Homo sapiens: one gene and its partners. The protein of the gene in region 4 interacts with the protein of the main gene of each other region in a biochemical or structural test. Each region holds a gene or a part of one and is shown on either strand. Other genes may lie near its edges.

The links.
Region 1: the proteins of CDC73 (region 4) and USP25 form a complex in vitro, tested with the Homo sapiens proteins (one study listed by BioGRID).
Region 2: the proteins of CDC73 (region 4) and TCEA1 form a complex in vitro, tested with the Homo sapiens proteins (one study listed by BioGRID).
Region 3: the proteins of CDC73 (region 4) and USP37 form a complex in vitro, tested with the Homo sapiens proteins (one study listed by BioGRID).

What each region holds. Positions count from the first base shown.
Region 1 is NC_000021.9:15,828,214-15,835,864, reverse strand, and holds part of USP25 (ubiquitin carboxyl-terminal hydrolase 25), read right to left. Parts: intron 7,525-7,651; coding exon of another isoform or gene 7,514-7,524; exon of another isoform or gene 7,180-7,513; intron 5,335-7,179; coding exon 5,264-5,334; intron 4,465-5,263; coding exon 4,236-4,464; intron 2,539-4,235; coding exon of another isoform or gene 2,525-2,538; exon of another isoform or gene 2,518-2,524; coding exon 2,317-2,517; intron 1-2,316. UniProt on the Homo sapiens protein: Deubiquitinating enzyme that hydrolyzes ubiquitin moieties conjugated to substrates and thus, functions in various biological processes including inflammation and immune response.
Region 2 is NC_000008.11:54,013,466-54,021,116, forward strand, and holds part of TCEA1 (transcription elongation factor A protein 1), read right to left. Parts: intron 1-7,651.
Region 3 is NC_000002.12:218,496,554-218,504,204, forward strand, and holds part of USP37 (ubiquitin carboxyl-terminal hydrolase 37), read right to left. Parts: intron 1,605-7,651; coding exon 1,473-1,604; intron 1,305-1,472; coding exon 1,181-1,304; intron 1-1,180. UniProt on the Homo sapiens protein: Deubiquitinase that plays a role in different processes including cell cycle regulation, DNA replication or DNA damage response.
Region 4 is NC_000001.11:193,146,948-193,154,598, reverse strand, and holds part of CDC73 (parafibromin), read right to left. Parts: intron 6,733-7,651; coding exon 6,634-6,732; intron 4,296-6,633; coding exon 4,217-4,295; intron 2,220-4,216; coding exon 2,155-2,219; intron 1-2,154.

The DNA of each region.
Region 1 (7,651 bases), on a different chromosome or scaffold from region 4:
AGAAACCAATCTTTTAAACAACAATCTCACTCTGTAAATTTATGGACTTGGCATGTTCTACTTCTACTAATTCAAACCAAGTGCATATTTCCGTCAAGTCTATGGAGGATACAATGTTTCCTACAGAAGTAGTATTACCACTGCTTTCTAAATAACCCACGCTGAAAGGTAACTATAAAAGTTATCTAGGAATAGGAATTGACCATTTCCATCTCTTCATCTTTTATTCTGGTTCCTCCCAGAAATATATCAACATTCTAAGATTATTTTGCATGGTAAAAACAGACATGAAAATATATGTCCAATACCTAGTACTGCATTTTTTAAAAATTACAAAACACCATGTAAAGTGTATGGTCAGATGTATTGATCATGAAAATGGATGCAGTTATGCACACATGGTCTTTTCACAGAGAAAGAAAAAAGATGACAAATGTAAAATGAGGATGGGGCAAGGCTAGTCCTTAATAGATAGGAATATTAGTTGGAAATATGTATTCGTTTGACTAAGCAGAAATAAAATATGTTAACTCTGAAAATTTGGAGAGATGAGAAACAGACAGGATGAAGAGGAGGAGGATATATAGAACTTAATATTTTGGTATCACAAAATATAGGTGAGCCAAGAATAAAACTGGAGCTTAACCAATGAATGGAGGATTCACCTGTGTCTGGGAGCTTAGGTACCACAACTGCTTATAGTACACTATGCAGCCCCTTCCTCCCACTAATAACAAGAATAGTCACATGTGAATGGAATAAGTAAATGTTAAGGGAACAATAACACAGTAGCTCCATCTTGGGGCAGGTTCTGAGGAGTGATTTGGAAAGAATATGTACAGAATGCAAAGCATGAAATCACAAAGGGACAGAAATGTTTTAAAAATGAAAGGAACTATAATATAGTTACTACACTGTGATTTGAGCTTAGATACCTCTTGACATCTACTAAAAACTACATTGTTGTGGACCCACATAGCTTCACCTGCTCTACGCGGTAGCCTTGTACACGTGGGGGAAAAGTGCAGCCCTACATAATGGTAGAGTTCACCAGCCACTATAATGGTGGTATTCTCCATAGCACTGTAGTATCCAAATGTTGCTGTGATACCATTATCTTTTTAAAAAATGCTGAATTATCTGCCTCTCAGGATCAAAATCAACGACAATTATTTGATCTACATGAAAATAAGTTAAGTATCTGGACAGATTTGTGCATGCCTGCGACAGTCACAATACTACATTGTAGCACTGTAAAACAATCTTCTATTGAAGTAATAATTCCTTCTAAAGTTCAAATGATAATGCTGAAGCCCAACCAGGTAATGCTGCAAGGAAACCTCTGTCTGCGAAAGATGAAATTAAACAAACAAAAGCTGGAACTACTTCCTTAAAACACAAAACATGCAGATCTTGCAAAAAAAAAAAGTTATTCAATAATATCCACTAGCAGTTATAAAAAGAGACAAATGAGTTTGAGGAAAATATATGCGCTTAATTTATAGCTTCTCTGAGAAATAGCATTTTCTATACCAGAAAACATGTTGCCCTAAAACATATTTGCAACTCAGTGAAGAGTAATCTTTTAAGAAAATAAAAAGACAATATATTTTCAATTTTACTAGAAACTATTTTCTTAATTCCTATACAGTGTTTACTTTGACTTATTGATTTCATCAGCTAATAGTTCATTTCAGAATAATGTTTTTAAATATTTATATGTTTATGCATTTATATCTTTGGTTTACAGGTCTATACACTTACTTTTTACCTGTGATATACTAAATAGTTTTGGTCAATTTTCTCTTAATCTTAAGAATTCCGAAAAACATCAAATAGTTATTAATGGTAGTATTTTACTATTGCACAAAGTATATATGAATATACCGGTAGTATTATTTTGGCCAAATTTAAAATTACTACTCTTGATAGCTTTATTGAATTGATACTCTTGATAGCTTTATTGAATTGATACTCTTGATAGCTTTAGTGAATTGGTTTGGGTTTCTTGCTGATTTCACAGCTTTCTCTGCTACTTGCCAAGAAAATTCAAGCCCACCCAACACAGGCAGAGTAGGTAGAGGGAAAGTCAACAGAATTATCTCATTTATCTTGAAAAACATATAAATATATACAGTGGTGTCTGGCAAAAAGGTAAACTAAATTGTTAACTGTGATAATCTGAGTGATGGAATTTGAAATGATTTCTACTGATTTCCTCACACTTTAAGATAGCTAAAACTTTTTAATAATGAGCATATCTTATTATAAAAATAATATTGATAATCAAACACAACTTAATAAAAATGGACAAACCTGTTGTCACAGAAGTCTCTGACTCTCTCAATTTCTGAGACGCTAAAAGCTTTTCCTGCAAAGCTTTCTGGGCAAGTTGTGCATCCCATTCTTCTAGTTCTTTTTCAAATCGTTGGTTGTCTTCCTCAACAAAATCTCTCAAATCCGGTGGTAATGTTTCTATACCAACAAGGGGCTGCCCAGTTTCTTTATTAAACTCCTCTGCAAATCATATTTCAAAAACTAGTATAAAATTAAGAATTAAAGGGAAAATGCAAAGCTCAAAATAGACTGCATTTCAAATAGAATTTAAACTATGAATTATTACCACTCAGCCAATCATATTACTTAAGAATTACTATTGCTTAGCAAATAATTATTATCTACAAAACTTTTTAAAACTCAAACAAATGCTCAGAAAAACAATGATGAAAATATTTGATAATCCATCATAGGTAATGGTCTCAGATTTTTTTTTATCTTAAGAGTAGAAGTGACAGAAAATACAAAGCCAAAGCCAAGTTTTTTGTTGCTGTTGTTGTTTGTTTTTTTGAGACAGAGTGTCATGCTGTCACTCAGGCTGGAGTGCAGTGACACAATCTCGGCTCACTGCAACCTCCGCCTTCCGGGTTCAGACGATTCTCCCGCCTCAGCCTCCCGGGTAGCTGAGACTACAGGTGCCCACCACCAAGCCCGGCTAATTTTTTTGTATTTTTAGTAGAATGGGGTTTCACTGTGTTAGCCAGGATGGTCTCGATCTCCTGACCTCATGATCTGCCCACCTTGGCCTCCCAAAGTGCTGGGATTACAGGCATAAGCCACCGCGCCCGGCCATTTTTTTTTTTCTTTGCTACTCTAACAGTGATGTAATACTACTTCTGCCACTATTGGAAAATACCAGATGTTTGATCACTTAAAAAGTAAAACTTTTCACAAAATGTAAACAACTCATAATCATGTTAACCTTATTAGCTCAAAATAAAATGAAAATTGTTTGTCATATGAAGAAATTAAGTAGACTTAAATATGCAATTATGAAAATTAATATAGCAAGATCTTAAAAACAATAGAGTATTCAGAAGAATTACTGAACTTCTACTACACACACAGAAAAATAACTTCATTTTTTTAGTCAGAAGTGGACTGCCTAGCTGATTCTGAATGACTAAATATAAAAAGATTATTTTTATCAGTTTCAATAAACCTTTATTATTTTCTATATGCAAAGCATATATCAGAATATCAGCATTAAAAAGATTCAGACATAGTATGACATGATCTCTGGCTCTGAGCAGATAAGAGAGAAATGTGCAAGACAAGTCATCACACAGTTCCAATACACAACAGTAAATGCCCAGTAGACAGATGCCAGGACAGCATAAGGAGAGATACTTTTTGGCAGATCAAGAAATAGTTTGCAGGGGAAATGACACCTGAATTGAATCTTGACAGATAAACAAGAATTAGGCAAAAGAATTACTAGCAAAAAATAAAACATATACGAACATGCAAACATAAATGTGTGAAATGGTTTGATATGAGCAGATACAGCAAGAAGTTCAGTAAGGATATAAATTCAAAAGGAACACTGGTGATCAATGAAGGTGGGGAGATAATCAGAGGCCAAGAACAGAGGCCATATATGTTAGGCTAAGGAATTAAATATTAAATGTGAGTCAATCTGTGGAACAGTCACTAAAGCATTTTTAGCAAGGACGAAAAAGGTCATATTTACCTTTAATAGTTGACTTGGAATACAAAATATATACGAATTCTTAGCCCTGACGACATTACTTTTCAATTCAGTCTTGTCAAAACCCAGTAGCATTTCCTAACCACATCCTTCATCGTCTGAGTGAATTACACTTAACTAATCACACCACATACCAGAGCCACTTTTATGACTATTTAAAAATACACACCACCCTATATATTCTTACCTTGTATTAGGAACTGTGCCTTATCATTTATGTACATTAAACAGTATGCACTGGCATTTCTATAACCACCAAAAGAGTCCCTCACTAGCTCTTCCCATGATGATTTTGTCACAGCAATATCATTGTACTTCATCCATCTGCTTTCACGATGATCAAAAATATATGCCCAGTAGTGCCCAGCATTAGCTTGGCCTTCGTGAACTAAAACGGCATGTAATCGATAAGGAACCTAAATGTGAAAAAAAGAAGAGTTAAACTGCAATTATGTAGTTTACTATATACCACATTCCATGAAACCCACAAACAACCTGTTTGGAGAAAACCATAAGAGCATTTTTTTTTTTAAATGAGAGAGAACTGGCTGGGCTTAAAAGTTTGAAAAAAACTAAACTATAAAACTTTAAAAAGACGGAATCTGAATAAGCTAAAGATATGCAAAGTTGATAGATTAAAAAGATGATTTTTGAAAAACTAAAAATGTATTTATTGTGTACATACTCATTGGCCTAATTGTTTATTTGAATAAAAAGCTTATAGTGGGCAGTTTTACATATAGCAAATGTGTCTACATCTTCAGAATTCTAAATTGACGGTTAACAAAATAGATTATATGATATACACCAGAAGTTAAAATGTAATGGAGTCCTTAAGTTTCTTCCCAAATCTTAATATCCTTTAACAACCATAGATTTTCTCCCATAAGACTTTTTAAAGATGCTATAGCCTTTTGAAAAACTTTGGTAGATTTTACTGTAAAATAGTAAGGGTACACAACACATACGGTGTGAAAATACAACTGAATGGGGAAAACTTGTCATGAATTTTGTTATAAATTTGTTATAAAAGTTTCCCCATTCAGATGAACTGTCACATTGTACATATTGCAAGCCCTTATTATTTTACAATAAGATTTGCCAAAATTTTAAAACAAAACATGTAAAGAAAAATTAGATTAAGATAATGTAAAGGTAAATTAAAATATATGTAAATAATTTTGACAATGATTACTAGCTCAAAATTTCACTTACTTGTATCATAGATTTGTCAGAGTACATTAATTCAATTGTTCGATGGATTCTGGATATGCTTTCCTGCAAATCTAAGGATATAAGGTGTCATTTAATGATTAACAGCAAATGTGTTTCTACTTATAAGATAAGGACTAATGTTTTTCCTACAAACATGTTAGAGGAATAGGAAAATTTTCCTAAAACTTTTCTTAAAAAACATTACCATTTGAAATCTGTAGAAAATGAATTATAGTTATTCTTAATAAAAGACACAGTACAAATGCATACTTTAAAAACAACACAAATATGATTTATCTAGAAAATGTGCAGAGCCAATAAAAGTGAATTTTGTTCAAATCTATAAAGGAGAGTTTCAATGAAAATGAAAGCTAAGCTTCCTTACATATTGCTATAACACAAGTAAACTTAAGAACAAAGTAAAACATGTTCACCACATATCTTGTACACACACATAACTGAATAAAAATCGACTATAATCACCAGTGAAAATAAAATTATGGCACTCCCATGACAATTATTTCTACTTCTAGTAGAAAATAATCCTACAAAATTGTTCAGATAGGGATGTTCACAGTCATATTGTCCACAATAATTTTTAAAAAAGAGATAACCTAAATATCTGTCAATAAGGAAACGGTTAGATTGTAACCACATCATATTGTGAAGCTGCTGAACCAATCAGGAAGAAACCTTGAAAAACTATAAAAGAAACTGGCTAACTTTAGAGTGGGGAAAGACCTGTCTTAAGCCTGTCAGAAAACTAGTAACCTTATAGGAAAAGATAAGATCCTCCCTGCCCAACACTTTAAAAAATCTACATTATAAAAAGAAAACAAAACCAACATAAAATCAAATGAAAAACTGGGAAAATAATATCTGCAGCATATGTGATATTATAGGTAAAGTGTTAATATCCACAATACATTAAACTTTCTATTAAGTAATAAGAAAAATACAAATAGCTCAATACTTAAAAAATGGGCAAATGTCACAAACAAGAAATTTACAGAACAATATAAATATCCAACTTCACTCGAAGCTAAGGGAATGCAAATCAAAACACTAAAATACCAGTTTTTCAATTGTGAAAAACTACTAAAAAGTGTCCAGGGCTAGGGAGGATACTGGGAGACAGGCTCTCTCACACAGTGGGAATGCAAACTGGTTTAATGTTTTGGAGTGACAATTTTAAAACAGTCGTCAAAATTTAAAATATACACACTCTGAACCAGAAATGGTGGACATAAGGAAACAACAGATATTGGGGCCTACATTAGGGTGGAGGGTGGGAGCAGGGTGAGGATGGAAAAACCACCTATCAGGTACTGTGCTTATTACCTGCATGATGAAATAATCTTACACCAAACCCCCAAGACATGTAATTTACCTTTATAGCAAACCTGCACATGTACCCCTGAACATAAAAAAGAACATATCCTACTTACAGAAGTGTATAAATATGTATATCGAAGACCAGCACTATTTAGGAAATATCAATATGGGAATTAAATGAATTACATCATACCCGTGTGTTGGAATATTACACAATAGTTTACAAAATAATGCTAACTGCTAACATCAATATGGATGAAAGAAAGAAAAAAAATATCCTGAGGAAAACCTTCTTTCCTGATCCATAGTATTACATATAAAAATCTTAACAGCCAGGCATGGTGGCTCACGCCTGTAATCCCAGCACTTTGGGAGGCTGAGGTGGGCGGATAACAAGGTCAAGAGATTGAGACCACCCTGGCCAACATGGTGAAACCCCATCTCTACTAAAAATACAAAAATTAGTTGGGTGTGGTGGCACACAACTGTAATCCCAGCTACTTGGGAGGCTGAGGCAGGAGAATCGCTTGAACCTGGGAGGCAGAGGCTGGAGTGAGCCCGAGTTCATGCCACTGCACTCCAGCCTGGTGACAGAGCGAGACTCCGTCTCAAAAAAGCTCTTCAAACTTAAAATGGCCAAAAGAGAACTCATCATATTTCTCTTTCCTCCCCTGAGTGGGAACCTCTTTGCCCACTGCTTTACCTTTTTTCCAAAATACATTCTATTTGGTTATTCATACCATTATGAACTGAGAGAATCATTCGATTCGTCCCTCTCTCTTACCTCTAGCCAATGACCCACATCTGTCAGTTGTCTCCAAAGAGTATTTTAAGTACATTCACTTCTTCCCTCCCTCAATGCCACTACTTAGGTGTCAAAAGCTTCCTAGCTTCCACTCCTCTGAATGTAATCTTTTAAAAACAACCTGCCATGAGGAGTAGAAAATTACCCAACGCCTAATATAGTGCTTCATCAACACTATTTGCTTGATTAATGTTTGTTAATGAGTTCAAATATTTTTAAAAATTCCCTCTTATTTGAAAAATACTAAA
Region 2 (7,651 bases), on a different chromosome or scaffold from region 4:
CTCAGGAGTTCGAGACCAGCCTGGCCAACATGGTGAAACTCCATCTCTACTAAAAATACAAAAATTAGCGGGGCGTGGTGGCGGGCACCTGTAATCCCACAGCTACTCAGGAGGCTGAGGCAGGAGAATCACTTGAACCCAGGAGGCGGAGGTTGCAGTGAGCCGAGATCGTGCCACTGCACTCCAACCTGGACGATAGAGCAAAACTCCATCTCAAAAAAAAAAAAAAAAAAAAAACAAAAAACAGACAAACAAAAAGAAATAACTATGATGATCTGAATGAGTGAAATGCAAAACAGATAATCATACATTAATTCGGTGACAACAAACTTTGAGTGCTGCTATGTGCTTGGCATTGTTAAATACTTCACATAGATTTAATTCCACCTTCACCATAAACCCTATAGAAGCAGGTATTATCTCCATTTTACAGATGAGGAAATATGTCAAGAAACTTGCACAAGGTTCTATGATTACTAACTAGAAAAGGTAAGATCTACTCCAGTAATGTCAAATGTACCAAGCTCTACTGTACTGGGGATACAGCAGTGAGCAAGACTGAAACCCTTTCTGACATCAGGGAATTTTAAAACAAACAGAAATCTTTAATCATCTATTTCAAACCCTTAACTACACACAAAAAAAAGAAACTTAAACCCAGAAAAGAAAAGTGACTTGCCCAAGGTCATACTGACGGGTAGTAAGGTCATGAACTAGTCGCCTGACCCTTATACTGCTGCCCTTTCCCCAGCAGTGCGCCAGTGGCAGCACTCCTTTGTGAATTCAGATGACTAGTATCACCAAACAAGAAGCTGTATTTTAGCCTTCCCCAAGCATCACCTAGCTCTAAATGTCAAGCCTAGGCCAGGCACAATGGCTCAGCCTGTAATCCCAGCACTCTGGGAGGCCTAAGGCAGGAGGATCACTTGAGCCCAGGGGTTCGAGACCAGCCTGGATAACAGAATGAGATCCCACCTCTATTTAAAAAAAAAGAAAAGAAAAGAATACATGTCCAAGTCTATGAGATTGTAGCATCTCCTACAGATGATGCAAGAGAAAGAAAGACTCTTCTTTAATTTCCAGAGCCAAATTTAGTTCACACTACTGGCTGAAAGATAAACTACAGCTATCACACTATTTTATTACATTGTTGGTGCTCCTATCTGGTAATAGAAAACAAGTGATTTTATAAACCATGATACTTGTACTATGTGCTCAGTATACTCAAGACCATGTAGGATACGAACATCCCTCTCCTCAAGGAGATGTAAAAAGGAGGGAGTAATAGGGATTTATAGTTAAGAATATGGTGTACATATATGACAGATTTAGATTCAAATCCATGCTCTGACATTTGCTAACTACAAGATCTGGGTAATGTTATTTGTCCTTTTCAAGCTTCAGCTTCTTTATACGTAGGTGAGCATAACACACCAACCTTGAGTAGTTAAAACAGCCAAATGAGGCAACATTACACAGATAAAGTATCAAAATAGAGGGTCTGACACATAGCATGGTTGATGAGGAGTACAAAAATATACAAATAATTACTTATTTCTACCATAACAATAATCTCCAGGGGCCATAAGCCAGCATTTTCAGTGATCATATTTAAGCTCAATCAAGTAAAACAGTTACTTCTTCTATAATAATGTCTTCTTCATAGGCATTATTATAAGATTTCAAGGTTAAAGAATTAAGATATTATCCATTTTTTTTTTTTTGAGACAGTCTCACTGTGTCGCCCAGGCTGGAGTGCAGTGGCGTGATCTCAGTTCGCTGCAACCTCTACCTCCTGGGTTCAAGCGATTATCCTGCCTCAGCCTCCCAAGCAGCTGGGACTACAGGCGCCCACCACCACGCCCAACTAATTTTTGTATTTTCAGTAGAGATGGGGTTTCACTATGTTAGCCAGGCTGGTCTTGAACTCCTGACCTCGTGATCTGCCCACCTCAGCCTCCCAAAGTGCTGGGATTACAGGTGTGACCCACCATGCCTGGCCCATTATCTATTTTCTTAAACAATGAATTATAGATATTTGAGTTGTAGCTCAATAACATCACTATAAAGCTAGGACTTATGATATTACTATGTCATCTCAAATTTGCAGTTAAACTACACCAAAAGCACAAGCAACAAAAGAAAAATATATATAAATTCATCTTCATCAAAATTAGAATATTTTATACTTCAAAGGCCACAACCAAGAGCAGACAGACAACCCACAGAATGGGAGACAGTATCAGCATATCTAACAAGGTTCTAGTATTCAGAATATAAAGAACTCTTACAACTCAATAATAAAAAGACAACCCAATTTAAAAATGGACTAATCCAATTTGTACTCCAGCCTGGGCAACATAGCCAGACCCTGACTCTTTTCTAAAAAATGGGCAAAGGATCTGAATAGACATTTATTTCTCCATAGAAGATATGCAAATGGCCACAAAGCAATGAAAAGATGCTCAACATTGTTAATCACAAGGGACATGCAAATCAAACCCACAATGAAATACCACTTTACACCCACTAGGAAGGCTATAATCAAGACAAATGATATTGGTGAAAATGAGGTGAAACTGGAATCCTCACACACTGCTAGTTGGAATGTAAAATGGTGCAGCCACACTGGAAAGGTCTGGCAGTTCCTCAAAAGGTTAAACATAGTTACTATATGACCCAGTAATTATTCTCCGAGGTATACACCCAACAGAAATGAAAACATATGTCGCCAGGCGCGGTGGCTCACGCCTGTAATCCCGGCACTTTAGGAGGCCGAGGCGGGCAGATCATGAAGTCAGGAGATCGAGACCATCCTGGCTAATACAGTGAAACCCAGTCTCTACTAAAAATACAATAGCCGGGCATGGTGCTGGGTGCCTGTAGCCCCAGCTACTCGGGAGGCTGAGGCAGGAGAATGGTGGGAACCCGGGAGGCGGAGCTTACAGTGAGCCATCACACCACTGCACTCCAGCCGGGGTGACAGAGCGAGACACTTGTACAGCAATGTTTTTAACAGTATTATTCACAACAGCCAAAAAGCTGAAACAGCCCAAATGTCCACCAAATGATGAATGAATAAGCAAATCGTGGTTGGGTGCAGTGGCTCACATCTGTAATCCCAGCACTTTGGGAGGCTGAAGCGGGTAGATCACCTGAGATCAGGAGTTCTAGACCAGCTTGGCCGACATGGTGAAACCCTGTCTCTACTAAAAATACAAAAATCAGGCCAGGCGGTGTGGCTCACGCGTGGAAATCCCAGCACTTTGGGAGGCCAAGACAGGCGGATTATGAGGTCAGGAGTTTGAGACCGGCCTGGCCAATATGGTGAAACCCCATCTCTACTAAAAATACAAAAATTAGCCGGGTGTGGTGGTGCGCGCCTATAGTCCCAGCTACTCGGGAGGCTGAGACAGGAGAACTGCTTGAACCTGGGAGGCGGAGGTTGCAGTGAGCCGAGATCGCGCCACTGCACTCCAGCCTGAGCGACAGAGCAAGATGAGACTCCGTCTCAAAAAAAAAAAAAAAAAAAAAAGACTATACTAAGCAAAAGAGGCCAGTTACAAAAGACCACATACTGTATAATTTCACTGACAGAAAATTTCCAGATTTGGCAAACACACAGACAGAAAGTATATTAGTGGCTGTCAGAGGCGTGTGAGAAATTGGTGGGGGCAAATGAGGGCTGAATGAGGAGTGACTGCTTAATAGGTACAGGGTTTCTTTTTGGAGTGATGAAAATGTTCTAAAATTATACAGTAGTAATAGTTGCACAAACCCGTAAATACACTAAAAGCCACTGAATTAACAGTTGACCCTCAAATAACATGGGTTTAAACTGCACAGATTCACCTGAGAATTTTCTTTCACCTCTGCAACCCTAGATGACAAAACCAACTCTTCCTTTCTCCTCAGCTTATTCAATGTGAAGACAAAGAGGATGAAGACCTTTACGACGACACATTTCCACTTCATGAACAGTAAACATATTTTCTCTCCTTTATTTCTTTTCTTTTCTTTTTTGAGACATTGTCTCGCTCTGTCACCCAGGCTAAGTGCCTATAATCCCAACATTTTGGGAGGCCAAGGCAGGCAGATCACTTGAGTTCAGGAGTTCTAGATCAGCCTGGGCAATATGGTGAAACCCCATCTCTATAAAAAATACCCAAAAAAGGCTGGGCTCAGTGGCTCACGCCTGTAATCCCAGCAATTTGGGAGGCCGAGGCAGGTGAATCACTTGAGGTCAGGATGTGGAGACCAGCCTGAGAAAAATGGTAAAATCCCATCTCTACTAAAAATACAAAATTAGTTGGGTGTGGTGGCACGCACTTGTAGTCCCAGCTACTCGGGAAGCTGAGGTGGGAGAGCTGCTTAAACCCAGGAGGCGGAGGTTGCAGTGAGCCAAGATCATGCCACCACACTCCAGCCTGAGTGACATGACTGCATGAGTTATACTACTACAAAAGTTATACTACTTGACTGCATGCGGGTAGGGAGGGGGGATAGTGTGAGCACCACAACCCTTGCATTGTTCAAGAGTCAACTACACTTTAAGAATGAATTTAATTCTATTTCTCGATAAAGCTGTTATTAAAAATTGTATAGTCATTCTAAATTTTGAATTATGCTAATTAATCTAACTCTGATATAGATATCAAAGTTTTGTTGCAGTTGTTATTTTAACTGAGGTACTTGGAAATGTAAATCAATATTTCAGGTATCCCAGCTCCTACGAAATTCTAACATCTAATTTCAATTTCTCTCCCTGCAATTTAATTCCACTCAACCTTGAGCCTTCAATGAAATAAATAAATAAACCTCAGCACTACCCACAAAATCTCTCCATGAACTTCAAAACTTTATGTCCTTGCCTCACTCCTCCTTCTATAATCTAAATGAATCCTTTACAAAGAAAGGCAACCTCAGATTGTTTTTTAGGCCTTATTACATCCTTTAGGCCCACAATCCTACACTAGAAGCATTTTATATTCACTTAATCCTTACTAAATTATCTCCAGTTTACCATGACGAGAAACATTTTAGTGATGACAAAGAACTTGCCTAAAATCACACAGCTAAAGTTCAGAAAAGTTCAGAAAAGCCAGGATTTGAACCCACATTAGCAGTCAGACTTGGTTACTGACACCGAATCAAAGTGACAAGAAAACAGCTTAAGCAGAAAACAGCTAATACCTAAAAATTTCGAACTACTTTCTGTGGTTCACTGTGGCTTGGTCATGTGCACTTGAGATCAAGTACACATGTGGGACAACATCTTGGGTAGAACTAGGGTCAGGATATTGATCTAGGTAACTAGGGAAACACACCTGCCCCAAAACAGCAAGTTCATACTCTTACTTCCTGATTTTGTATTCACTTAATTGTATCCATGCATGGTTCAAGAGCAGATGCAAGGGTCTTCTAGAGAGACACTGTAGCTTAAGAGAGGAGTACTAGCTTTGGAGCAAAACAGATTTAGATTCACATCTTCACTTGGCCATTCACTAGCTATTTGGCTTAAGACTATTCTAAATACTTAGCATCCTCATTTTCAGAATGAGGATAATACTCATCTTGCAAAGTTGCCTGAGGAATAAATGGGATAAGGTGGGTAAGTATTTAGCAGAATACCTGGCTCAGAGTAATAGCTCAATAAATGGTAAGCTGTTTTTAGTTAAGTGTGACACCTATGGTTTTAGTAAAACAAAATTATTCAGGTAAAGCAGCAGCATGTTAAAATATTTTTTTAAATGATATCTAAATTTGCACTTAAATTTGTCAATTCTGATGACAACTATTACTCTTCAAAGTTAACTTTTTCAGGCTGGGCGCAGTGGCTCACATCTGTAATCCCAGCACTCTGGGAGGCCAGGACGGGCAGATCACCTGAGATCAGGAGTTCAAGACCAGCCTGGCCAATACGTTGAAATCCCATCTCTACTAAAAATACGAAAATTAGCCAGGCATGGTGGTGCACACCTGTAGTCCCAGCTTCTAGGGAGGCTGAGGCAAGAGAATCGCTTGAACTGGGGAGGCGGAGGTTGCAGTGAGCCGAGATTGCACCACTGCACTCTAGCCTGGGTAACAGAGTGACACTGTCTCAAAAAAAAAAAAAAAAAGTTAACTTTTTCATAATATAAAACATTAAAAAAGCTGAGAGAAAAATCTGAAAACTACCGAAAAAAAGAGAAACACATATACCATAATTCTACAACCCCTAAAACACATTTTGTTGAATTACTGAACACTTAAAAAGCCATCTGTAGGCTGATGATGCAGTTGGGGAAAAGAGGAGTGTCATTCTGACCATTTCTCTTTCTCTGTATTTCATCAGCCTGTTTGAATTTCCAGAGGACAGGCAGGGAAAATGCTGGGGAAAACAAAAGTACAAGAGCCAGTCAGTTTTACCTTTCTTTTTGGGAGGCAAGTTTTCATACTGGAAAAGTTTTGAACTACCTGAAAACTTAGATTTGAGAAGAAAACTTAGATTTGAGGATTATTTGTGGAGTTTATTCTCATTCTCTTCCAGACTCATTACAAAAGATCTGAAAATTTGTTGACGATTTGAGAACTGCAGATAAATATGAATTTATCTTCTCCACACCTGCCCACTAAAAAATTACTTAGAAACATTATTACAAGGAAAGAAACAAAATCAAGCAAACATCTAATGCATTAGATGATTAAAGGATACATATTACAGCCTAAGTTGGAGAGAACATTACCCAACAAATGGCTTTTTTTCCCTGGGAGCTTCTACTGTGCAAGTCTGGGGATCTCCAGACCAGAGAAAAATCTTCCAGTTTAAACAAAATAACGAAAATGTTCCAATAACCAGATAACCTATCAAATAACCAGAATTTGAAGTGGGAAATGAAGGGCCATATCAATGGGGAGGAAAAATGGCACTGGTAATATCTAGAACAGAAAATAAACAGGAAATACTTTAAAAGGCCAAAATTTGCAAATACAGATTAACAGGGTATGAAATGAAATACGAGGCAATGCACCTGTTAAAGGAAAAAGGGGAACAGAGGATGTTTGAAGTCTTACGTATTTAGTGTTAACACTAATTCCTGATCTAGCTGTCATGTGGAAAGCATGCTGTCCAGAAGAAAACCTGGGTCCTGGCTTATTCCAAACTACACAGTACTTAATTTAAGTAGTAGTACTTAATCTCTCTCAGTGTCTTAATCTGTAAAATGGATACCCTTTATGTACTCACAGCTCTGTGTGAGTCACAAAAGAATTTTGAGCAGATGCTTTTTAACTCCAAAGTGCTGTACAAATCAGAGCATCCCTTTTCTCTTCACATTAGTTTGACATGGAATTTACTTCATAGATGGAAGAAAAATTATTTCAGGTACACTGATGATGAAAATGTGCCGAACGTGGTTAAACAAATTTAGGTGAGGACAATTATATAAGTTTACCTGAGAGGCCAGGCGCAGTGGCCTCACGCCTGTAATCCCAGCACTTTGGGAGGCTGAGGTGGGCGGATCACCTGAGGTCAGGAGTTCGAGACCAGCCTGGTTAAGATGGTGAAACCCCGTTTCTACTAAAAATACAAAAAAATAGCCAGGCGTGGTGGCGCACGTCTGTAATCCCAGCTACTCGGGAGGCTGAGGCAGGAGAATCACTTGAACCCGAG
Region 3 (7,651 bases), on a different chromosome or scaffold from region 4:
TCGCAGGTAACACAGCCCAGGTCCTTGCACTGGTAAATCAAATCTATATTTGAAGAGTCACATTTAATCTTACTACAGCTCCTTAGGTTTTTCTTTCTTTCTTTCTTTCTTTGAGACAGATTTTCGCTCTTGTCACACAGGCTGGAGTACAATGGCACAATCTCGGCTCACTGCAACCTCTGCCTCCAGGGTTCAACCGATTATCCTGCATCAGCCTCCCAAGTAGCTGGGATTACAGACATGCGACATCACGCCTGGCTAATTTTTTTGTATTTTTAGTAGAGATGGGGTTTCACCTCATCAGTCAGGCTGGTCTGGAACTCCTGACCTCAGATGATCCACCCGCCTCGGCCTCTCAAAGTGCTGGGATTACAGGCATGAGCTACCGCACCCAGCCTCTCCTCAGGTTTTTCAATCTATAATGAACACACATACACAAATCTCGTTTTAAAATAAAAATCAAGAAACACACTAAAATCATGTCAATTTCCATGATTTCTTACACGTTATTTATTTGTTTTATTTTTATTTTTTTGAGACAGAGTCTTGCCCTGTAGCCCAGGTTGGAGTGCAATGGTGCGATCTCAGCTCACTGCAACCTCTGCCTCCCAGGTTCAAGAGATTCTCCGGCCTCAGCTTCCTGAGTAGCTGGGATTACAGGCATGTGCCACCATGCCCGGCTAATTTTTTTTAATCTTTAGTAGAGACAGGGTTTCACCATGTTGGCCAGGCTGGTCTCAAACTCCTGACCTCATGATCCACCCACCGTGGCCTCCCAAAGTGCTGGGATTATAGGCGTGAGCCACCGCACCTGGCCTATTTTATTTATTTTTATAAATATTTATTTATTTATTTTTTGAGATGGAGTCTTGCTCTGTCACCCAGGCTATAGTGCAGTGGTATGATCTTGGCTCACTACAACCTCTGCCTCCCGGGTTCAAGCAATTCTCCTGCCTCAGGCTCCCGAGAAGCTGGGATTACAGGCGCATGCCACCACGCCTGGCTAATTTTTGTATTTTTAGTAGACACAGGGTTTCGCCATGTTGGCCAGGCTGGTCTCAAACTCCTGACCTCAGTGACCTCAGGTGACCTGCCCACCTAGGCCTCCCAAAGTGCTGGAATTACAGACGTGAGCCACCGTGTCAGGCCTCTGAAACGTTTTAAAACAATTAATACTCACATTCTGCATATAACCAGAGAATCTCTCTGCTGTAGCTGAAATGGCATTTTTAACCTTCTTGAGTAAATCCTTTTTGGTCTCTGAATTACAGATATCTTTTTTAACAAGCAAGTGTGCAAAGCGTCTAGTAAAACAAAAAACACAAAGTTAGCACGTTTTACATGACATGGCGTGATATTTTAAAGAATAATTACTAATAATGGCACAGAAAATTTTTGAGTGTCTAAAATTCCATTATTCTATAATCAATGAAGTAAAAGGTTACTCAGTAAGTACAGTACATAATGATTACCTGATAAGTGCATTGAGTGGAATTTTCTTCCATGGGATACCTTGTTTAAGCAAGTCATTTGCAAATGACTGGAGTGAAAATAGAGATTGTAGAATAGCATTCATATAGCAGGTATTTCCCAAATTGGAGAAGCTGAAAATTAAAGAAATAGTGCTTTAGAAGGCAACAGGAATTCCTAAAGTATGTTCAGTATAGTAGGAGTTCTCCACTTTATGTTTCAGAATCACCTGGAGGGCTTGTTAAACTACATATTACTACACCCTAACCCCAAGGTTTCTGATTCAGTAGGTTTGGACACAAATGTGTCCAAAAAAAGAAGGCACAAAAATGTCCATTTCTAACAAGTTACTAGATCACGTTGATGCTGCTGGTCTGGGGACTCTACTTTGAGAACTACTGCATTATGACATTATAATAATAGGCCAGGCGCAGTGGCTCATGCCTGTAATCCAAGCACTTTGGGAGGCCGAGGCAGGCAGATCACTTGAGGTCAGTAGTTTGAGACCAGCCTGGCCAATATAGTGGAACACTGTCTCTACTAAAAACACAAAAATTAGCCAGGCATGGTGGTATGCGCCTGTAATCGCAGCTACTTGCAGGCTGAGGCACGAGAATCGCTTGAACCCAGGAGGCAGAGGTTGCAGTGAGCCAAGATTGTGCCATTGCACTCCAGCCTCAGCAACAGAGTGAGACTCTGTCTCAAAATAAATAAAATAAATAAATAAATAATAACTTAGTTTGATCTAATGGAAAAGTATACATTTTCAAAATTAATGCTAAACATGACTGGGGGCTTAACTAAAGTGCTTTTCATTCTTACTTATAATTTATTTTTTCATTTAAATATAACTTATTCATTTCTCTGAAAATGAATGCTCAGAAAAGGAATTACTGGGTCATAGAATATATGTGTTTAGGTACTGCCAAATCTTTTTCCTAAGTACAAATATATTTTAAAAACTTTTTATGCCGGGTGCAGTGGCTCATGCCTATAATCCCAGCACTTTGGGAGGCCAAGGCGGGTGGATCACAAGGTCAGGAGGTGGAAACCATCCTGGCTAACACGGTGAAACCCTGTCTCTACTAAAAATACAAAAAATTAGCCAGGCGTGGAGGCATGCGCCTGTAGTCCCAGCTACTTGGGAGGCTGAAGCAAGAGAATTGCTTGAACCCGGGAGGCGGAGCTTGCAGTAAGCTGAGATCACGCCACTGCACTCAAGCCTGGGCAACAGAGCAAGACTATGTTTTTTAAAAAAACAAAAAACAACAAAAAAAAACCTTTTAATTTAGAAATAAATTTAGACTTCCAGAAGAGATGCAAAAATCTTTACCTGGATTCACCAACTGTTATACTTCTGTAATGTGCACTTCATCACTTAATATCCCTCTCTCTATATATTTTTCTGAAACCATTTCAGAGTAAGTTGCATTTATTAAACCCCTTTAGTTCTAAATACTTTAGTGTATATTTCATAAGACCATTCTTATAAATAATCAGAGTACAATTATCAGCATCAGTAAATGTAACACTGATACAATATTCTATCTAATATACGTTTCTTAATTCAATTTTGTCAACAGATCCAAGAAGGTTCTTTATAGCTTTTCTTCCCTCACTTAGGTACAAGATTCAGTCCAGGATCACATGCTGTTTTCATGTATGTCTCTTTAGTTTTCTTTAATCTGGAGTAAGTCCTCAGCTTTCTCTTACATGACACTGACATTTTTGAAGAATACAGTTCTCCCTACCCTGGGTTGTTTTATTTTTGTTTTTGAGACAGGGTCTTGCTCTGTTGTCCTGGCTGGAGTGCAGTGGTGTGATGACAACGTACTGCAGCCTCAACCTCCCGGGCTCGAGCAATCCTCCCACCTCAGCTTCCCCACTACAATGTGTGCCACTATGCCTGGGTAATTTTTTAATTTTTGTAGAGATGGATCTCACTATGTTGCCTAGGCTGGTATTGAACTCCAGGGCTCAAGCAATCCTCCTTCCTTGGCCTCCCAAAGTGTTGGGATTACAGGCGTGAGCCACTGCACCCAGCCTGTTTTTTTCGTTTTTTCTTTTTTTAGACAGAGTCTTGCTCTGTTGCCCAGGATGGAGTGTAGTGGCGTGATCTCAGTTCACTACAACCTCTGCCTCCCGGGTTCAAGCAAGTCTCATGCCTCAGCCTCCCAAATAACTAGGGTGACAGGCGTGTGCCACCACACGCAGCTAATGTTTGTATTCATTTATTTATTTATTTATTTATTTTGAGACGGAGCCTTGCTCTGTTGCCCAGGCTGGAGTGCAGTGGTGTCATCTCGGCTTACAGCAACTTCCATCTCCCAGGTTCAAGCAATTCTCCTGCCTGAGCCTCCTGAGTAGCTGGGATTACAGGTGTGCACCACCAGGCCTGGCTAATTTTTTTGTATTTTTAGTAGAGGTTTCATCATGTTGATCAGGTTTGTCTTGAACTCCTGATCTGCCCGCCTTTGCCTCCCAAAGTGTTGGGATTACAGGCATGAGCCACCGTGCCCAGCCTGTATTTTTAATAGAGACGGCGTTTCCCCATGTTGGCCAGGCTGCTCTCGAACTCCTGACCTCAAGTGATTCACCTGCCTCAGCCTCCCAGAGTGCTGGGATTACAGGTGTGAGGCACTTCACCTGACCTAGCCTTATTTTTAATAGAACATCCCTCATACTGGGTTTGCTATTTCCTCATGATGAGATTCAGCCTAAACTGGAAGAGCACATGAACAAACAGTGATACCATGTCATGCCTTTTTTTTTTTTTTGAGAGCTTGTTTGGAGTTTCTAGCAGGGGAGTGCAGCTACTCGTATACTCTTGGCTGAAGACCAGTCCTCCTCTATTGGGGATGGTCATCCTCTTTGACTGAGCACGCAGGTTTGCGACAGACACACATGGAGTGGTGAGGGAGGAAGGGGATACCCGCCTAGCCAGTCAGATCAGCCAAATCAACCCTGGTGAACAACGGGGTGACAGATGTCACAGTCAGATCGCCCTCACATCCAATCTTTTTTTTTTTTTTTTTGAGAGGGTCTCATTCTGTTGCCCAGGCTGGAGCACAGTGGCACAATCTTGGCTCCCTGCAACCTCGACCCCCCCGGACTCAGATGATCCTCCCACCTCAGCTTCCTGAGTAGCTGGGGTTACAAATGCGCACCACCATGCCAGGCTAATTTTGTATTTTTTTGTAGAGACAGAATTTTGTCATGTTACCAAGGCTGGTTTTGAACTCCTGGGCTCAAGCAATCTGCCTGCCTTGACCTCCCAAAGTGTTGAGATTATAGGTGTGAGCCACATGTCTGGTGGACACTGTATCCTTCTAAGGGCATCACATCCAGGAATACATGATATTCCTGTGTTGCCCATGGGTGATGTCAATTTTGAGTACCTGAGAGAACTACTGCTTCTGCTTCTGCCTATGAGGAAGTTTGAGAGTCTGGAATTACCTTCCTACTATAAACAATGAGAAAACTGGACAAAATAGAGAAAACAGCTATTTTCAGATACTAGACAATAGGCAGCACAAAACAGTGATCCATAAGAGAAGGAAAATAAATGATGTGAGTCCTACTATTACCCAGATTTTCTGTCTGGAGGCAATTTGTGAACTGCAATTCAGGGAGCACCCAAACAGAGCCTAGAAATCTTACCAAGTTGAGCTGAGAGAAATGAGTTCGAAAAGCTGAGGTTGCTGAGATTTCTGGGACAGAGTACTTGAGAGGAAGGAACTGAACAAAGGAAAAGCTCCAGAAATCTGCATAGCAGTCTGCTTGAATATTTGGCTGAATACCAACCTGTGTATGCAGAGTGAAACTCAGTCTTCTTGACACTAATCAAGAACAACTTCAAGGAAAAGAATGTTTACTATGGAGCTACTGGCCAAACAACTCCCAGAACTCACACAGGGACTAAAATTCCACCAGTTCGAATTTACACCAGTCAGAGTAGAGAGACCTAGATGAATTCACAGAGTGTTAACAGAGACTCCAAAGGAACTATGCTTTAGGAAAGGAAGCAAATTAGCCTTAGAGTAAAGGATACTCTATATTCAAAAAGAACTTAAGCAGATCACACAGCTGAGAAAGAAGAAAAAAAACAGAAATGAAAAAGAAGAACTTAAACAGGAGACTCAAAACAATCAAAACTACTGCAGACAAGAATATTAAAACAACTACTTAAAATATGCTCTACACGATCAAGAATGGAAAGGAAATCATAAACATAATGAGAGAAGTGAAAGATTTTTTAAAGACCCAAATTAAACTTCTAGAGATGAAAATCACAATATTTAAAATGAAAATTTCACTTGATGCGATTAATAGCATATTAGACACTGTAGAAGGAAATATCTGAACTTGAAAAGACAGCAACAGAATAGATTCCCACTAAACCTGTGGGACGATATCAAATACAATTATATTTATATCAAATATAACTGGAATCCAGAGAGAAGAGTCAGAAAAAAAATCTGAAAAAATCAATATATAAAAACGTTCAAAATCTGATAAAAACTAGAAACCCACAGATCCAAGAAGCTCAACAAATCCCAAGTGAGATAAACACAAATCAAAATGAAGCCCACCAAAATAAAACTGCTAAAAATTAGCAACGAAGAGAAAATCTTGAAAAGCAGTCAGAGAAAAACTGTCTCAGTGCCTTCAAGGAGGAAGATTAAATCACTTACAAGGGCAGAAGAATTAGACTGGCATCTTATTTCTGAAAAGCAAATACAAAGCAAGGTAACAGTAAAGTAGCATTATAAGAAACCCAAGGAAAGAAAGCATGACCCAAGGATTTTACATCCAGCCAAACTATTTTTCAAATATCCAAGCTAGAGAAAAAATTTTGAATATGCAAGAACTAGGGAAACAAGGTACATAATTGTAAAGTTAAGACTAAAACAAGATTAAGACCGTAGGCTTCTAGTCAGAAATTATACAAAAAAGAAGACAAAGAAAAGATATCTTTAAAATACTGAAAGAAACACATTATCACGTTAGAGTTCTATATAAGCTAGATTTCTAGATCCAATGGAAATATCTTTTAAAATTAAAAGCAAAATCCTTTTTCTGACAAACAAAATCTGAGAATACTTGCTGCCAAGAGACACGCACTGTAAGAAATGTTAAAGCGACATTCTTCATGCAGAAGGAAAAATGATACCAGACAGAAACTCAGATCTACACAAAAGAAGAGCACTTAAAACAGGAAATCATGTGGGAAAATACAAAATACATTTCTGTCTCATCTTTTAATTTCTTTAAATACACTGGACTGTTTAAAACAATAACACCAAATAATACACTTTAAATAGGTAACTACACGGTACGTGAATTTTTAAGGCTGTAAAAAAATCCTAACTACGTATTGTGGGATGTATAACATACATAGAAGTAAAATGGGCTGGGCGCGGTGGCTCACGCCTGTAATCCCAGCACTTTGGAGGCCGAGGCGGGCAGATCACCTGAGGTCAGGAGTTCGAGACCAGCCTGACCAATATGGAGAAACCTCGTCTCTACTAAAAATATAAAATCAGCAGGGCGTGGTAGCACATGCCTATAATCCCAGCTACTCTGGAGGCTGAGGCAGAAGAATTGCTTGAACCCGGGAGGCGGAGGCTGCAGTGAGCCGAGATCGCACCGTTGCACTCCAGCCTGGGCAACGAGAGCAAAACTCCATCTCAAAAAAGAAAAAGAAAAAGAAAAAGCAGTAAAATGTATGATAACAGTATAAATGATGTGGGGTGGGAGGCAATAATGGAGATAAAATGAACACAAAGGAAAGAAAGAAAAGAGAAAAAAGTAACCAAGGACAGATGGAACAAATAGAAGACAATTAGCAAGATGGTAGACTTAAACTCAGCCTTATCCATAATTGTGAAAAATGTTAATGGTCTAAATACTTCAACCATCAATTTAGACTGGATGATCTAATCATAAAAATGTGGAGTCACTATTAATATAAGACACAGCAGACTTCAGAAAAATATTATCAGGGATAAAAAGGGGCATTTCATAACAATAGGGAGGTCGATTCATTAAGATTTAATTAATATAATCCTAAATGTGTATGTGCCAAAAACAAAGCTATAAAATACATAAAGTAAAAACTGACAGAACTGGAAGGAAAAATATACAGGTTTCTGGCCTAATATACAAATTTCTGACCTAA
Region 4 (7,651 bases):
TCTTTCTGTTGCATTCCTACACAATGCCTTTTTCATGACTATTCTTTAAAAATCACACAGCATAAATTTGCTTAAGTTCACCTCTCTTTTCAGTATACTTCAGTATATTGCTTAAATTCACCTCTTTCAGTATATTTAGAACAGTCTCTGATGATGCCGCAGAATCACATCATTCTCATACTGATCAATAAAGAAGCTATCCTTAAATTTTAGAAAAACTGCTCTGTACAAAGCATCACTGTAAAACCCATCACAGATTTTACTACTTGCAAAGAAGCTCAGATAATAAAACCATTTCATGGCATTTCAGAGGTACAGGGATGGATGAGAAAAGTAAAAACAACAATCACAAAAATAACAAAAAACTTACTTTGATGGCTCCCCAAGGGTAACAACTTCATTCTACGACTAATTCACTCAGGGAATGATCAGCGGGCAAGTTCTGTCGCACTTAGGGAAATGATTAGTAGGCAAGTTCTGTTCCCAAGATGTCAATAACCAAATCACATAAGAATTTAAACTAAATCTTCAGCCATGAATTATATATTGAAGTCAGGAAGAACCAGGCAGATCGCATAAGATGGGAGTATCTAATCCCTGATGACTTTTCCCTTAGTTCTCCAAACTCTAGCAACACTGGCCTCCTTGCTGTTGCTCTACTGGACCTCAGTCTTGATCCCTGCCTTGACGTAGAGGAATGCTATCCAAGTCTCTCTGCTCAACTGTTACCTCCTGAGAGAAGTATCTCTGACTTCTCTCTCTAAACAAGGCTCATCTGTCTTATTCACAGCTGTATGACCAGCAACAAGAACAGGATCTGACACAAATGCTCAATAAGTACTTGTTGAATGAATTCATTAATCTACACATAATTTAATAATACAAAAACAAATCTGATGACAATTTAAAAACAAGTATATTAACAAAATATCTGATATCCAATCCCAATTTGAAGTCCAGAAAAAAACAAACTTAAAATCAGATCTCTATACTTGCTATTTGCTTTTGGAAATGAGTGAGTAAAACACGTAAAAGCCCACGTAGATATAAAGTTATATGTTAATTCTGAGAAACCACAGCACATATATAATGATTCCATGTTATATAGAGTCCGTAAAGATCTGATGATTCACAAGCAAAGACAAAAGTTTGGTATTAGTGTCTTAAGTATACTCTATTTAATACACATGCATAGTATTTTAAAAGTATAATAATCTAGAATATAAATAAAAGTATAAAAGGTAGAATGGTCTAGAATATAAATATGCAAAATGAGGTTAACAGAATTCCTGTTCTACATCACCAAGTCCGATCATTAAATAAAAATTTAAAATGTTAAATATGGCTTGGTCAGAATATATAGAAATAACCATTTTTAGGTTAAAAAAAGAAAGTTTGCTAAACATGAACCAAAGGCTTATATTCACAGATACCCAAGTATTTAGTTCTGTTAATTACATACTTTGTAAGCATTATAATCACTATAATCCATCTCTTTAAAGAGCGAAAGACATTACATTGTTAAAAACAAGGCTGGGCACGGTGGCTCACACTTGTAATCCCAGCACTTCAGGAGGCTGAGGCGGGCGATCACGAGGTCAGGAGATCCAGACCACAGCGAAACCCCGTCTCTACTAAAAATACAAGAAAATTAGCTGGGCATGGTGGTGGGCACCTGTAGTCCCAGCTACTCGCAGAGGCTGAGGCAGGAGAATGGCGTGAACCCGGGAGGCGGAGGTTGCAGTGAGCCGAGATCGCACCACTGCACTCCAGCCTGGGCGACAGAGCGAGACTCTGTCTCAAAAAAATAAATAAATAAATAAAAATAAAAACAAAAGATATTATGCGAAAAAGCTCTCCCAAACTGACCTCATAACTTAAAGGCTTTAAATACTGACCAGGTGGCATTGCCCTACTTGCAAGTTAATCAAATCAGCTTTTATTTACATATATTCAACTTAATTTGAAGGAAAAGAAAAATGAAACAGGATACCCATGAATCAAATAATACACCACACAGATCAATCAGCACAAGTGATCAATAAAGAAAAATGTTTGAAATAAAAAATATGAGAGACTAAAGATTTACTTCAACATGTGCTACTCACATAAAATCCCTGGAACAAAAGAACATCTACAGCCAAATTAACTTACCGTTACAGATTTCAGTGTCATACCATGGTAGGTTCCCATAGTGTCAATTTTGAAGCCTTCCGTTTCTACGAAAAAAAAGAGGCTTATTGTTAAGATTTTATAGATCATGTATCTTATGACCTATAACAAATCTAAAGTAATAATCTACATTGAATGTGATGGTTCAATAATATACAAAGCCTTGAATCTACTATGTAAAATTAAATTACGTACTTGTGAAGATAAAAACTTTAAAAAGGACTCTAGGTTAAAAAATATTAATATATTAAATACAGACCAGCAAGCCTATTGTATAGAAGCTGGTTAAGACTATCTCTGCAATTATGTTCAAAAATTAAGATTGAATACTTTATAACCCCAAATTACTTACTACTAATACTCAATGATAGTACCACTAAAAGCATCTAATACCATGAAAAGACCCAAAGTTATAAAAAGTAGTGTTCCAAAGTTTCAGTCATAAGGCATATACTTATTTTTATATACATACATACATATATATTTTTTCTTTTGAGACAGGGTCTCACTCTGTCACCTAGGCTGGAGTACAGTGGCACTGCAGTTCACTGCAACCTCTTCTCCCATCCCCCCTCCACAGGTTCAAGCAATCCTCCCACCTCAGCCTCCCGAGTAGCTAGGACCACTGGCATGCACCACCACACCCAGGTATTTTTTTGTATTTTTAGTAGAGATGCGGTTTTGCCATGTTGCTCAGGCTGGTCACAAAGTACTGAACTCAAGCAATCCTCCTGCCTCCACCTCCAAAAGTGCTGGGATTACAGGTGTGAGCTACAGCAATCAACCATATTACATATTTTATAGAAAGCAATGTTGTAAATAATGATTGGAGTGCCAGGACAGAATCCCAATATGCCTTTCTGTAAAGGCAAATATTTTAACACATTGCAAGCCTTAAAATCTGTCACAACTGCCCAATTCTGTATTTTAGTGCAAAAGCAGAATAAACAATATATGTGATCAATTGGGGGCAACCCAATTTGGCCCATGGAGGGTGATATTTAGTTTGGGGGCTGTAATTTATCAACCTCTGCTTTATATAATTCATTCCTCAAGAAAAACATTGAATATTATAATGAAAGAATGGACGTAGTCTTTCTATGGCACATATCCAGTGCATGCCTTTAACAACTGAATGAAGTCAGCACACAAAATTCATTGCATCAAGGCAACATATCATTTAAAAAAAACTTAAATGAAGATTTCAGATTATGCTTAAAAATATCATTAACTTCCAGTTGCTTCTACCTAATATTTTCATGAATCAAGTCATGATGAATGAAGATCCCAAGAGGAAGTTACACTGACATTAGTCTCACCTCACAACTGCAGAAATGGTGTTATTGCATTAGCCAGAATACCACGTAGACTATCACAAAGTAAGTCCTCCCATCATTGCTCAAAATTTGTTTCCAAGTTCTCAATGTACATACACATTTATAACTTGGGAAAAATGACTTAACATATAGAATCTCTACTTTAAATTATATAAAAACAAAAGCAGTATGAATAACAGCAAACATTTATAGATAATTTACTTACATATCAGATACTATTCTGGGAATTCAATATTTATTAACCAGTCCAATACTCACAATAATGGTAAGAGACAGGCACTATAATAACATTTTAATTATACACAGGAGAAAACTAAGGCAGAATGCAGTTAAAGTAACATTAAAATTCACACAAAAAGTTACTACGACATAAGCTATCTGGATCCAGAATCCATGCTATTAACCAGGGGTTGGCCAACTTTTTTTCTGTAAAGGGCCAGATAATATTTTTAGGCTTTGTAGGCTACACAGTCTCTACTGAAACAATTCAATACTGATGTCACAAAGCCAAAGCAGCCATATATAAAATACATAAATGAATGAGTGTGGTTGTGTCCCAACAAAATGTTATTTAAGAAAAATTGCAGTGGGTAAGATCTGGTCTGTAGACATTACTTTGCCAACCCTTACCCTTAAACATCAGGCCACACTGCCTCTCAAGTTCAACACAACCACACTAAGGGGAAGATAAGAATTAAGCAACTTGCCTTCTTTTCCTTTGAATCTTTCCTGATCGTATCTGTTATAGGCAGCTGGGATAGGCTGTTTGGTGCGCAAAGTGGGATCCTGTAAAAAAATTAATTATGAGTTACTTGTTAATATTTTTAAATGTCACTTATTTAATGTGCTGGAGTGCAGTAGCATGACCATGGCTCACTGCAGCCAAGACCTCCTGGGCCCAAGTGATCCTCCCACCTCAGCCTTCCAAGTAGCTGGGACCACAGGCATGCACCACCACACTCAGCTAATTTTTTTTTTTTTATAAAGACAAAGTTTCACCATGCTGCTCAAGCTGGTTTTGAATCCCAGCCTCAGGTGATCGACCTCAGTCTCGCAAAGTGCTAAGATTACAGGCATGAGCCACCATACCTGGCTAAAGTACCTTTACGACATAATACTCTTCCCTGCAATTATGATTGTTTTAACAAAACAAAAAAACCCAAATTATTAATCCTTAAATAAACATGAAAGCCATGATGATTAATCCATTATAAACAGAGTAAGACTGAAGACGTATTTTTTTTAAATAATTAGAAAAGGCTGTCAGTCTAATGATGCATTATTTAATCACAAATACTTTATCAAAACTCACAATGTTTAACAAACTAAAAACACATATTTAGGAATATTCCCAAAGCTACTTGGAAAATTCATGAAGACTGAAATACTTTTCATTTTATTATGATAGGATTCTATATCAAATATTATGCCAAATAAAATATACTTATCAATACCTATCAAGAATGATAAGTATATGCTTACTTCACACTAGGCATATACTTCTATAGTCAAATGCCAAACATTAAAACCTTCAAGTATTCTAACGATTATATAAATATACAGAAAGAATAATCAGTCACAAATGGTAAAACTGTTTTAAGGTTTGACATGTTTCCTATCAACAGCTATTCAAAATGTCAACAAATTCATAATTCTAAGTACCTTGTGCTTTGCCATCATAGCTCTTACTCCACTACTTTAAAAAAAAAAAAACATCTAATAAGTAGGGAACTGCTGAGAGATCTAGGTTACATGGTCGTTTGAGAATCTAACTAAACCCTGAGGATCTGAGGTGGAACAGTTTCATTCCAAAAACCTCCCCCTGGTCCATGAAAAAACTGTCTTCTACGAAACTGGTCCCTGGTGCCAAAAAGGTTGGGGACTGCTGTATTAGACTATAAGCTCAAAGAAAGTAGGGACTATAATCTTTCTCACTATTGTATCTCAAGATCATTAGCAGACTTCCTAATAGAAGGCACTTAAGTACTTGATGGAGAGTCAACTAAAAGTATTTATCTAATTATCAACAAAAGCCTACCATCTTTAAAAGTTAAATTCCAACAATTTCATGAGCAAATAAAACTACTACAAAGTAGTTGCAAAGGCTGTATTAGTACTCTAATACATTTCAATGTGCCTTTTAAAACTTGAAACAGAGTTTTAAAAATATAGAAGGTTTTCTGGAAGGCCGAGGTGGGCAGATCACCTGAGGTCAGAAGTTCAAGACCGGCCTGGTCTTGAACAGGACGAAACCCCATCTCTACTAAAAATACAAAAATTAGCTGGGTGGGGTGGCATGCGCCTGTAATCCTGGCTACTTGGGAGGCTGAGGCAGAAGAATCGCTTGAACCCAGGAGGCGGAGGTTGCAGTGAGCCAAGATCGTGCCACTGACTCCAGCCTGGGCAACAGAGTGAGACTGTCTCAAAAAAAAAAAAAAAAAAAAAAAAAATTATAAATTTTCTATTTATAGAATCTTCTATTTTCTATTGCAGAAAATAGAAACAATTTCATTTGTATGTTTTATTCCTTTGTTGAATCATATGAAAATAGCTGGAAGGATTTTCAACAAAATTAGAGGATGTTTGAATTTAAATATAGGCTATATGTCATACGTGAAATTTACTTTGGGAGGGTCTTAAGTGGCACTTCAAAGAGAAGGCAGTCAACTCTCAGAGCAGCTGAAATGGAGGTACAATTAAAGGACAGCATGGCTGGTGATCAAGAGAAATACATTCACCAAGATGTAATAGATACAATGCCAAAAAGAACCCCAAACTGGGAGTTAACAGGGATTTATGTTATTAACAATGGTTAGCAATTGTCCCAAGCAACAATGAGTAGGCCAGCCACAGTTTACCTAAAATAAATAGAGGGCTTTCCCTAATTAACCTTTTTCAGACTCTGACCCAGGTATATTAAGAATTACTGCTCCAGTTAAGAATTACTGCTGAAGTAAGTAACTTTTAATGTTGGGGAGGGCTTTCACATCTTTCAGATATGCTAAAGGAGCAAAAGGTTTAGAATCCACTGATTTTAAAATGTGAAGATGTCTTCAACGTTACTACACTGCAATATAAGTGGCAACTTCATTAAATCTACTGTAAAGCAGTAAAGCATTCTTACCACAGGTGCTGCATTTGGGGCAGGTCGCTGTTCAGGTGCACGCCCTTCTTCTCTGGCTTTTACAGATTGAAGAATTGCAAAAATGTTCTTGGAAAAATTCTAAAATATAAATGGATTTTAATTAAGCCCACTTTAAATATACAATAGTAAATTTAGTTGATAATTTAAGACTAAGTTATCTTACTATCGATTCTTCCCTACTACATATGTCATAAGGTATCATTATTATACACATATGTAAAAACCAACCACTACTAAGATATTGATCCAGAGACTGATTATTGTAAATCCCATGGTATTCATTTCATCATTTTCATTTTACTTAAACTGCTACATTCGGGAGGCCAAGGCAGGCAGATCACGAGGTCAGGAGATGGAGACCACCCTGGCTAACACAGGTGAAACCCCGTCTCTACTAAAAATACAAAAAATTGGCTGGGCGTGGTGGCAGGTGCCTGTAGTCCCAGCTACTCGGGAGGCTGAGGCAGGAATATGGTGTGAACACGGGAGGCGGAGTTTGCAGTGAGCCAAGATCATGCCACTGCACTCCAGCCTGGGCAATAGAACGAGACTCCATCTCAAAAAAAAAAAAGAAAAAAAAAACTGCTACAAATGTATTCATATTCTGCATCTGTTCAAATATATAACCAGAAAGCAAGTTAAAATCTAAATAAGGCCGGGCACGGTGGCTCGTGACTGTAATCCCAGCACTTTGGGAGGCAGAGGCAGGTGGATCATGAGGTCAGGAGATTGAGGCCATTCTGGCTAATACGGTGAAATCCCGTCTCTACCAAAACTACAAAAAATTAGCTGGGCGTGGTGGTGGACACCTATAGTGTCAGCTACTTGGGAGGCTGAGGCAGGAGAATGGCGTGAATCCAGCAGGTGGAGCTTGCAGTGAGCCGTGATAGCGCCACTGCACTCCACCCTGGGAGACAGAGCAAGAATCCGTCTAAAAAAAAAAATCTAAATAAAATATAAATACATTTGTCAAAAGAGGCTTCTAGTTCAGAAAAAA